Linked DNA regions of Homo sapiens. The protein of the gene in region 2 purifies or fractionates together with the protein of the main gene of each other region. This does not show direct contact. Each region holds a gene or a part of one and is shown on either strand. Other genes may lie near its edges.

The links.
Region 1: the proteins of DAW1 (region 2) and RALY purify together in Homo sapiens (affinity purification with mass spectrometry, with the first as the bait; one large-scale study listed by BioGRID). This does not show direct contact.

Annotation. Positions count from the first base shown.
Region 1 is NC_000020.11:34,077,095-34,080,910, forward strand, and holds part of RALY (RNA-binding protein Raly), read left to right. Parts: coding exon 1-151; intron 152-1,410; coding exon 1,411-1,455; 3' UTR 1,456-1,459; intron 1,460-2,815; 3' UTR 2,816-3,816. UniProt on the Homo sapiens protein: RNA-binding protein that acts as a transcriptional cofactor for cholesterol biosynthetic genes in the liver. Binds the lipid-responsive non-coding RNA LeXis and is required for LeXis-mediated effect on cholesterogenesis.
Region 2 is NC_000002.12:227,902,505-227,906,320, reverse strand, and holds part of DAW1 (dynein assembly factor with WD repeat domains 1), read right to left. Parts: intron 3,320-3,816; coding exon 3,212-3,319; intron 1,393-3,211; coding exon 1,286-1,392; intron 86-1,285; coding exon 1-85. UniProt on the Homo sapiens protein: Required for axonemal dynein assembly and ciliary motility in ciliated organs, including Kupffer's vesicle, during embryogenesis. Facilitates the onset of robust cilia motility during development.

The DNA.
Region 1 (3,816 bases), on a different chromosome or scaffold from region 2:
TGGCAGTGGTGGTGGCGGTGGCGGTGGCAGCAGCCGGCCACCAGCCCCCCAAGAGAACACAACTTCTGAGGCAGGCCTGCCCCAGGGGGAAGCACGGACCCGAGACGACGGCGATGAGGAAGGGCTCCTGACACACAGCGAGGAAGAGCTGGTGAGGGCCTGGCCAGGGGCACGACTGGGACTCGACTGTGCTCCTACTCTCAGGAGGCCAACAGGGGAATGGGCAGCCTGAGCTGGTTGCCCCCACTGTGAACTTCCTGTTCTCTCCTTCCCAGGGGTTCTGGTCCTGGGGGAAAGAGGGAAGAATGAGCAGGGGGCACTTGCCTATCTCAGACACCATCAGAAGTCCCACTGAGGCCTAGGGCAGACCTCCCCCAAATGCGGGCACATTCTGGCCTCCGGTTTCCACATGAGTTGGAGAATGGGAGATTCGGACATAAGGGAGCACACACGGCCTGCAGAGCTTCAGAGCAGGGCTGGGGTGGCTTGTGGAGGCCACAGCCAGGAGGTGGGTTTTTCTAAAAGCCATTGCTGCTTAAGCATGAAGCAAAAGCTGTCTCATAAGGGGGTGAGCTCCCCGCCTGTTACTAGAACTATTCAGGCTGAGGCCGGCAGGCCATTTGACAAGGAGCTTATGTTGAGTGGGAGGGTGGACCAAACTCTGAGTCTGTGGGATATGGGTTGTACACTTGCTGCTCATTTACTTAATGAGCGCTCATTGAGCACCAAGACCCAGATCATACTCTCTAACTTCACATAACCTTAACAAGAGCCCTGTACTATGCAGAGTATTCTGTTCCCACATTTTACCCTGTGAGGAAATCGAGGCTCAGAAAGGCTGAGTGGCATGCTCAGGGCATCAGCTCGTAGGGACTGAGCCAGGGTTGGAGTCCAGACTGACTTGCTGGATCTGCAGCTTTCTCCTTTTCAGCACTGCTGGGTTCTATCGTGAGAACAGATGGGCTCATGGCCATGACGGTTAGGAGGTCTGCCTTATGCTAGCTCATCTCTCCTTTGAGCGTAGCCTGATCCTTCATCTTATTTTCTCAGGCATAGCAGTGTCCATAAAGGCCCTAACAAAGACTTGGATGCCCCCAGAGATGGGGAGCTCACCAGTCTATAAGGCTTTCAGCCTTCTCCAGTGCAGGCTCTCTGCACAGAAATGGGGCTCCTGCCACTCCCAGAACACCCTTCACTGGCCTGTGTGGGGTCCTCAGACCACCCTTCCAAGTTCCCAAGCCAGCTTTGTTGGCTGGTCCCATAGTCATTCCCCTTGGCTGTTCCTGCGTCTTCTGACTGTGTCCTCTAGATGCCCTCTGGACCATGAAGTTTTTCTGGACAAATGGCTCAGGGCAGGACTCAGAGCTGGCAATGAGTGATGTGTGGTCTCTCTTACCTCCTCCCTATCAGGAACACAGCCAGGACACAGACGCGGATGATGGGGCCTTGCAGTAAGCAGGTACAGGGGTCCTGTCCTGATGGGCAGAGGGTGGGGAATCAGTGAAGTGGAGGTTGTGCCTTTTCCCTGGATTGGGCAGGAAGTGTCACGAAGCATACCTGGCCAAGTAGCACTGACTATACCCAAGAATGAAGTCCCCTCCATATCTAGCCATCCCGTCACACCCCTTCATGCTTGGGGCTTGCCATGCTGAGGAAGCAGGTGCCGTAGATGGGCCAGGCGGGCCCACCTAGCAAGGGTTCCTTCCCTCAGCACACTCAGCCATGTTGCCTGTCTCTGCCCTTGAGGAGCTCCTAGTCTGGTAGAGGAAGACATAAGCCATTACCACCTAGTGTGAGCAGGATAACAATAGAGCGAGGCCAGGTCATGGAAGAGATGATGTGTAGCTGAGCCTGCTAGTGATTGAGGGAGCAATGTTCCACACCAGGGGAATGGCCTTAGCCATACAGAGCTGTGACAGTCCTTGGTATGTGGTGAGGCCAAGAGCCTCCTGTGGCTGCAGTGCCCCCCTAGTTGGTAGAGGACTCTGCTTATTGTCAGAGGGTGATGATTGTGAAGGGCCGTATGTGTCAGGCTTAGGGGCTGGGATTTGATTCTTTCATGGGGAGGAAATGCCCTGTGTGACAGGAGCTGCACCTGCTTTCTCTGAGTTCATCTTCAATCCCACAAGCTGATGATTGTACCAATATAATAGATGTGGAAACAGACACTAAAGGGTGCAGGGAGATAAGGTAGTAGTTGGTGGAGCCTGGATTTCAGCCCAGTGGTGTGTGGCTTCAAAGCCCACTCTCTGGCCACTGTTTACCATCTACTCTGCCCTACCTTAAAGGAAAGCCAGGCCACACCTGGCTGTGCCTACTACTCTCTGACCCATTCCCTTGGGGTGGCTTGGGTGGAGGAAGGTCTCAAACACTAGTGTTTCCAGGGAGGTGTCTGGATAGATGACACATTTATGCTGTAGTAAGATATCCCACCAGCAAAGGCTTCCAGAAGAGCTTTAGAAAATTGTACATATGCAGTCTTCTTTTGGAACTTCTTGGTTTGTTTTGCCTGGGATGCAAACAAACCTCCATATCCAGCCATCCTGCTACACCCCTTTGTGCCTGGTGCTTTCCAAAGCTTGTTAAAATAGTTCACAGGTGAGTTATATGGGCTCAGGTGAGGAAATGGAGGTTCAGAGAGCGGGTGAGACTTGCCCAAGGTTACATGGCCAGGAAATTATGAGGCCACAGCCAGAGTGCAAGAATCTCTCTGTCTCCAGACATCATTCCACCCTTTCTTCCCTACCCCTTTTATCAGCAACAGGGTCTCTTCCTCTCAGCCTTAGTCTCTTCTTTCTCTCTCTCTCTTTCTCAGCCTGACAGGAGCAATGGCCACCAGCAGGTGAAGGGCATCGCTGCCCCAGGCCTCAAGCCGGGCACCCAACCCTGGATGCCACCCCCCAGCGGGTACCAGAGGAAAGCTGGCAGCAGGCGCCTCCTCCCCCAACGCATCCCAGCCAGTGCCATGTCCTCTGCAGGTGGAGTTACTGGCCTACTCCTTCCCCATGAGCCCTCCCTGTCTGCACTGCCCAGGCCAGAGGGTAGAGCACAGGGGTTTCCCCATACTACCTCCCCTCCCCAGGACACTCCCAGGCTTGGGTTTTTTCTATAGGTTTGGCGGGGGGCCACAGGGAGGGGACCCTGACAATAAAGAGATTGGATCCCAACCTGTTCTGAGATGGGATGGTTTGTGTTTTCTCATGAAGATATCCCGGCCCCTCTGCCAACCAAAAAGCTGGTCTAGGGTGCCTAATACTGATCCATCTGGACCTTAGTGTCCTCAGTGGTGATTAAAATGGCCAGTGGGGCCACTGGGGAGGGTTGGATATGCTGGCCCATGAGCATCTTGCTGGCTGAAGTGTCAAGCAGTTGTGACCCACTTGGTTTACCCCATAGTAGGTCAAGACCTTATCTCTTTCCCCAGCTTCTAAGTCTGGTCTTTCCCAGCTCTTAAAAGGATTCTAGAGTCTGCCAGTCTCTACCTTCTCTCTTCTGGCTTAGGACACTATAATTTTTTCATTTGGACGTTGTCCTCCCACCAGCCTCCCAGTCTTCTGCCTCTGCCCTGTACCATCTCCCAGCAGCCACGCAGTCTTTCTGAAACGTATCCCTTCCCTGCCTAAAATCCCTTTACTGACTCTTCATCATCAGGACAAAACCCTACCTCCTGAATGTAGGGTGTAAGATCCTGCTTACTCCAGCCTCTCCTGTTTCTTGTCACCACCCCTTTCCTGCCCCTGACACAAACCCTACATCTCAGTCTCACAAAACACACAAGTTCTTCACACTCCGGGCAGGTTTGGTAGCAAGGAATAG
Region 2 (3,816 bases):
AGAGCCAGTTAATATTAGAGAGCAATCCCAATTGAATGAGGCACTGCTAATCTCAGCACAATGACCAATTAAGATATTTACCTTCCTACAACACAAAAATAATTAAAACTAGTGAAAGATATCTTACTTCAGTATATGCACATGAATAATGAGGCCAAGCCCATCTGTGTAAGCTAATCTAAAATCTGGTTTTTACAAAATAATATATTTGATGACAAATATGGCTCTACTATTGCTCAAAAAGAAGCTACCAATAATTTCATTTCAGCCGGGCACGGTGGCTCACGCTTGTAACCCCAGCACTCTGTGAGGCCGAGGCAGGTGGATCCACGAGATCAGGAGATAGAGACCATCCTGGCTAACACAGTGAAGCCCCGTCTCTACTAAAAATACAAAAAATTAGCCAGGCGTGGTGGTGGGCGCCTGTAGTCCCTGCTAATCGGGAGGCTGAAGCAGGAGAATGGCGTGAACCCAGGAAGCGGAGCTTGCAGTGAGCCGAGATCACGCCACTGCACTCCAGCCTGGGCAACAGAGCGAGACTCCGTCTCAAAAACTAACTAACTAAATAAATAATTTCATTTCAACAAAAATGTACTTAGATTTTAAACTATCAAAATAATGCTACTTAAGGCAACATTTCAAAAAGACATGGGTAACAAATAGTAAAGGCCGTAAGAAGTAGTCTTACACCGGGTGAGTGCACCCCTGGTTGTTCAGAAACTACACATCAAGTAACTGAAAGGTCCTTCTTCCTCTATCATTTCTTGTTGCATACATCTTGGTTGGCACCCCTGATAATTAGCCCCTCTATTAAATCACAGACAAATCCAAGAGTAGAGTTTTCCAACACAAATATGCTAATTTAGTTAACTTCCTAGCAACTAGGACCAAAAATCATTAGGAAGGAAATTGAAGTTCTTGGACTAAATTAATTTGGGAAATTAACTAAGAGTTTTTATTTATACATGATATTCCTGCCTAACATAATGACAAGCCATTGAAATCTGATTATCCATGAAATAAATAATAGCTATATAACCAGACTATTGCTAACATTCTCCTTTTATGTTGCTGTTTGTCATTATTTGCTCAGAATTCAAAGAATGCACATATTTTGTGAATCAGAAATATCATTAAAGAATGAATTAATTTACATTTTCAATATGTCCTATTTTTATGGAATCCAAAGCAGAGTTAATAGATAGTAGCTTAAACTAAAAAATAACAGAGGGTTTTCTGAACCCCCTGATCCAGGTTAAAACAATTCTTAAGAACTAAGAATTACCTTCCAGTATCAGCGTCCCACACTACAACGGTATGATCAAAAGACCCCGTGATGATTCTGTCTCCTGAGGTGTTAAATGACAAGGAGATGATTTCGGCAGAATGTCCCTAGAAAAAGAGCAGATACTGTCAAGTATACCTGCAGATAAAACAATTTCTGCAAGCGTACAATATCATAGTCTAAAAGGAAATGCTGGAGAAGGCCGAGCTCTAGGAACGGAGGTCAGCGGTTGGCTGGGGTGAGGATGGGGAGTGTCTGCACGTGGGCACAGGGTTCTTTTTGGGGTGATGGAAAGGTTTGAAAACTAGGTTTTGGTAATGGCTGCACAATACTGTGAGTTTACTAAAAATTAGTGACTTACACACAGCTAGTTCATTTAACTTAATAATATTGATTAAAAACAAAAGAAAGAGGTTGTATTTGGGGAAACTAGAGGACGTCCTTTACACTGCCTTGGAAACACTACAGAGCAGGGGATGCCATGGGCTAATAACACATGGTATGCAAAAGTAAACAGTGTATGAAATAAAACTAATTACTTTTAAAAAGGAAATTATTAAGATAACTTGACATGAAATCGATTGATAAATTCCTGCCTTTGGCCTGACTTTCAGCTGGTTACTGTCTAGTGTTAGTGAATCAAACTGTAAGATAATGGGAAGAAACCACTCTCCACAGCAGATTCTGGAACTCTGATAAGGGGATCCTGGTTGGAGTACATATATCCCTTGATTCCTTCATTATTTTAGTAAATTAACATAAGTATACTTTTAAATAATACAAAGAATTAGAAAAGTTGAATTATAACTTGATTTTTCTGATTGATTTCAAAGGACAAAATGAAATGTAGTTGAATATTCGAATTCTAAGTACGCAAAACAAATTCACTCTCTGGCGCAGACAGGTGTGCCAAGCAGGACCCCTCCCATTGAGTGCTCTTAGGCACGTCTGTAAAAGGAGTCATTTTAGTTGAAAGTGTGGCATTAATGGGGACCTTTCCCTGCACATTTGCCTGAAGGAAGAGATAGTAATGATTTAAAAAAAAAACGAAAAAAGAACTGAGAACAGAAAGAGTATACTTACACTAATAATGCTAGATACTCAGATTTAAGAAAGAAAAGCCATTACTGTTATTTTAAAATGGTGATTTTTTTTCTTTTGCAGTCCATGTTTTAACTTGCTTAGAAAAAGCTTTCTGAGGAAACAAATCATGTTTTTAAAAATGTACTTATAATTTTGAAAGGACAAGGAAACTGAATTTCCCATCTGGCTGTTCCTGCTGATTACAACATAGGGTCACTCTAGTTTTGTTGCAGTGACTTGGGCTGGGGTGGGAGGAAGGGGAGGGTGGGAGGAAGGGGAGGGTGGGAGGAAGGGGAGGGTGGGAGGAAGGGGAGAGTGACAGATGGCGGGGAGGTGCTGGGCACATGGTGGTGACACACAAGAGCATGCCCCACAGCACTCACTCTGTGGGCAGAGCCCTTTGGCCTTTTCCCCTCTGGTCACTTGCCCCTCTGTCATTTCAGACTTTTGTGATACAGGATGGCTGAAAGACCAGCGGGCAGAGGAGAGTGTGCTCACAGTCATTGCTCTAAGGATTCTCTTGTCATGGTTCTCCAGTTCTGCCTCTTCCAAAAGTGCCAGCCTCCACCTGCTTTCCTTTTAGCCAGAGAGATGGTGATGGGTTCTAAGATATAGTTTATGTGTTTTGCAGACTAAAGTTAGTCAAAATAAAAAGCTCCTTGGACTTCCCCAGCACCTCCACCCAAGTCTTTTGGAATAGCCAGGAAACCAGTAGGGACACTCTTTCACCACTAAAATTTGAAAACCAGCAACTCAACAACCTCCAACTTAGAGCTCATTTTGTAACAAAAACACAAATAAGAATGAACACAAATAACAGGCTTATTAACATTATTGACATACTCTTAAGGTGTAAACTTCCTCGCCATTCTGAATGTCCCACAATTTGGCTGTTGTGTCCATACTTCCAGTCGCCACCAATGTGCTTTGAGGGTTAAATGATAAACACACCTAAATTACATAAAATGGGAGAAATTTTAGGAAGACAGAGTTTCAAAGTGTTAATTATACACAGAAAATCTTCCAGATGCAATTACCTTACCAGATTCCATCTAATTCTTTGTACAAAACCCCACGTATGTGTGACCTGCTACCCCCAGGTTGAGTCCTTCAGAGTCCTCCTCTTGAAAAGAGGCTGCTTGTTCTCCCACAGCACCCAGCTAAGGCTTGGAGGGGCACTAGCTCCCTTTGCCACTTCCAGACCACAGAAGAACAAGAACAAAAGTGAAGCCCACCTCCTTTAAGATCCGTGCTATATGGCTCTCCTTCTCCTTGCTGCTGTCACCACAGTCCTTCCAATCACAGCCCCTCACTCATCAAGAGACTACTGGCTTGTAGTCTCAATGCCAAGTCTTAGGTGGCCTTCACGTGGGCAATCCATCCAGTTCCCCCAGACCCATGCCCCGGACAACTGTTCAGTAGTCTCTCCCATGGCCACACCATGGACC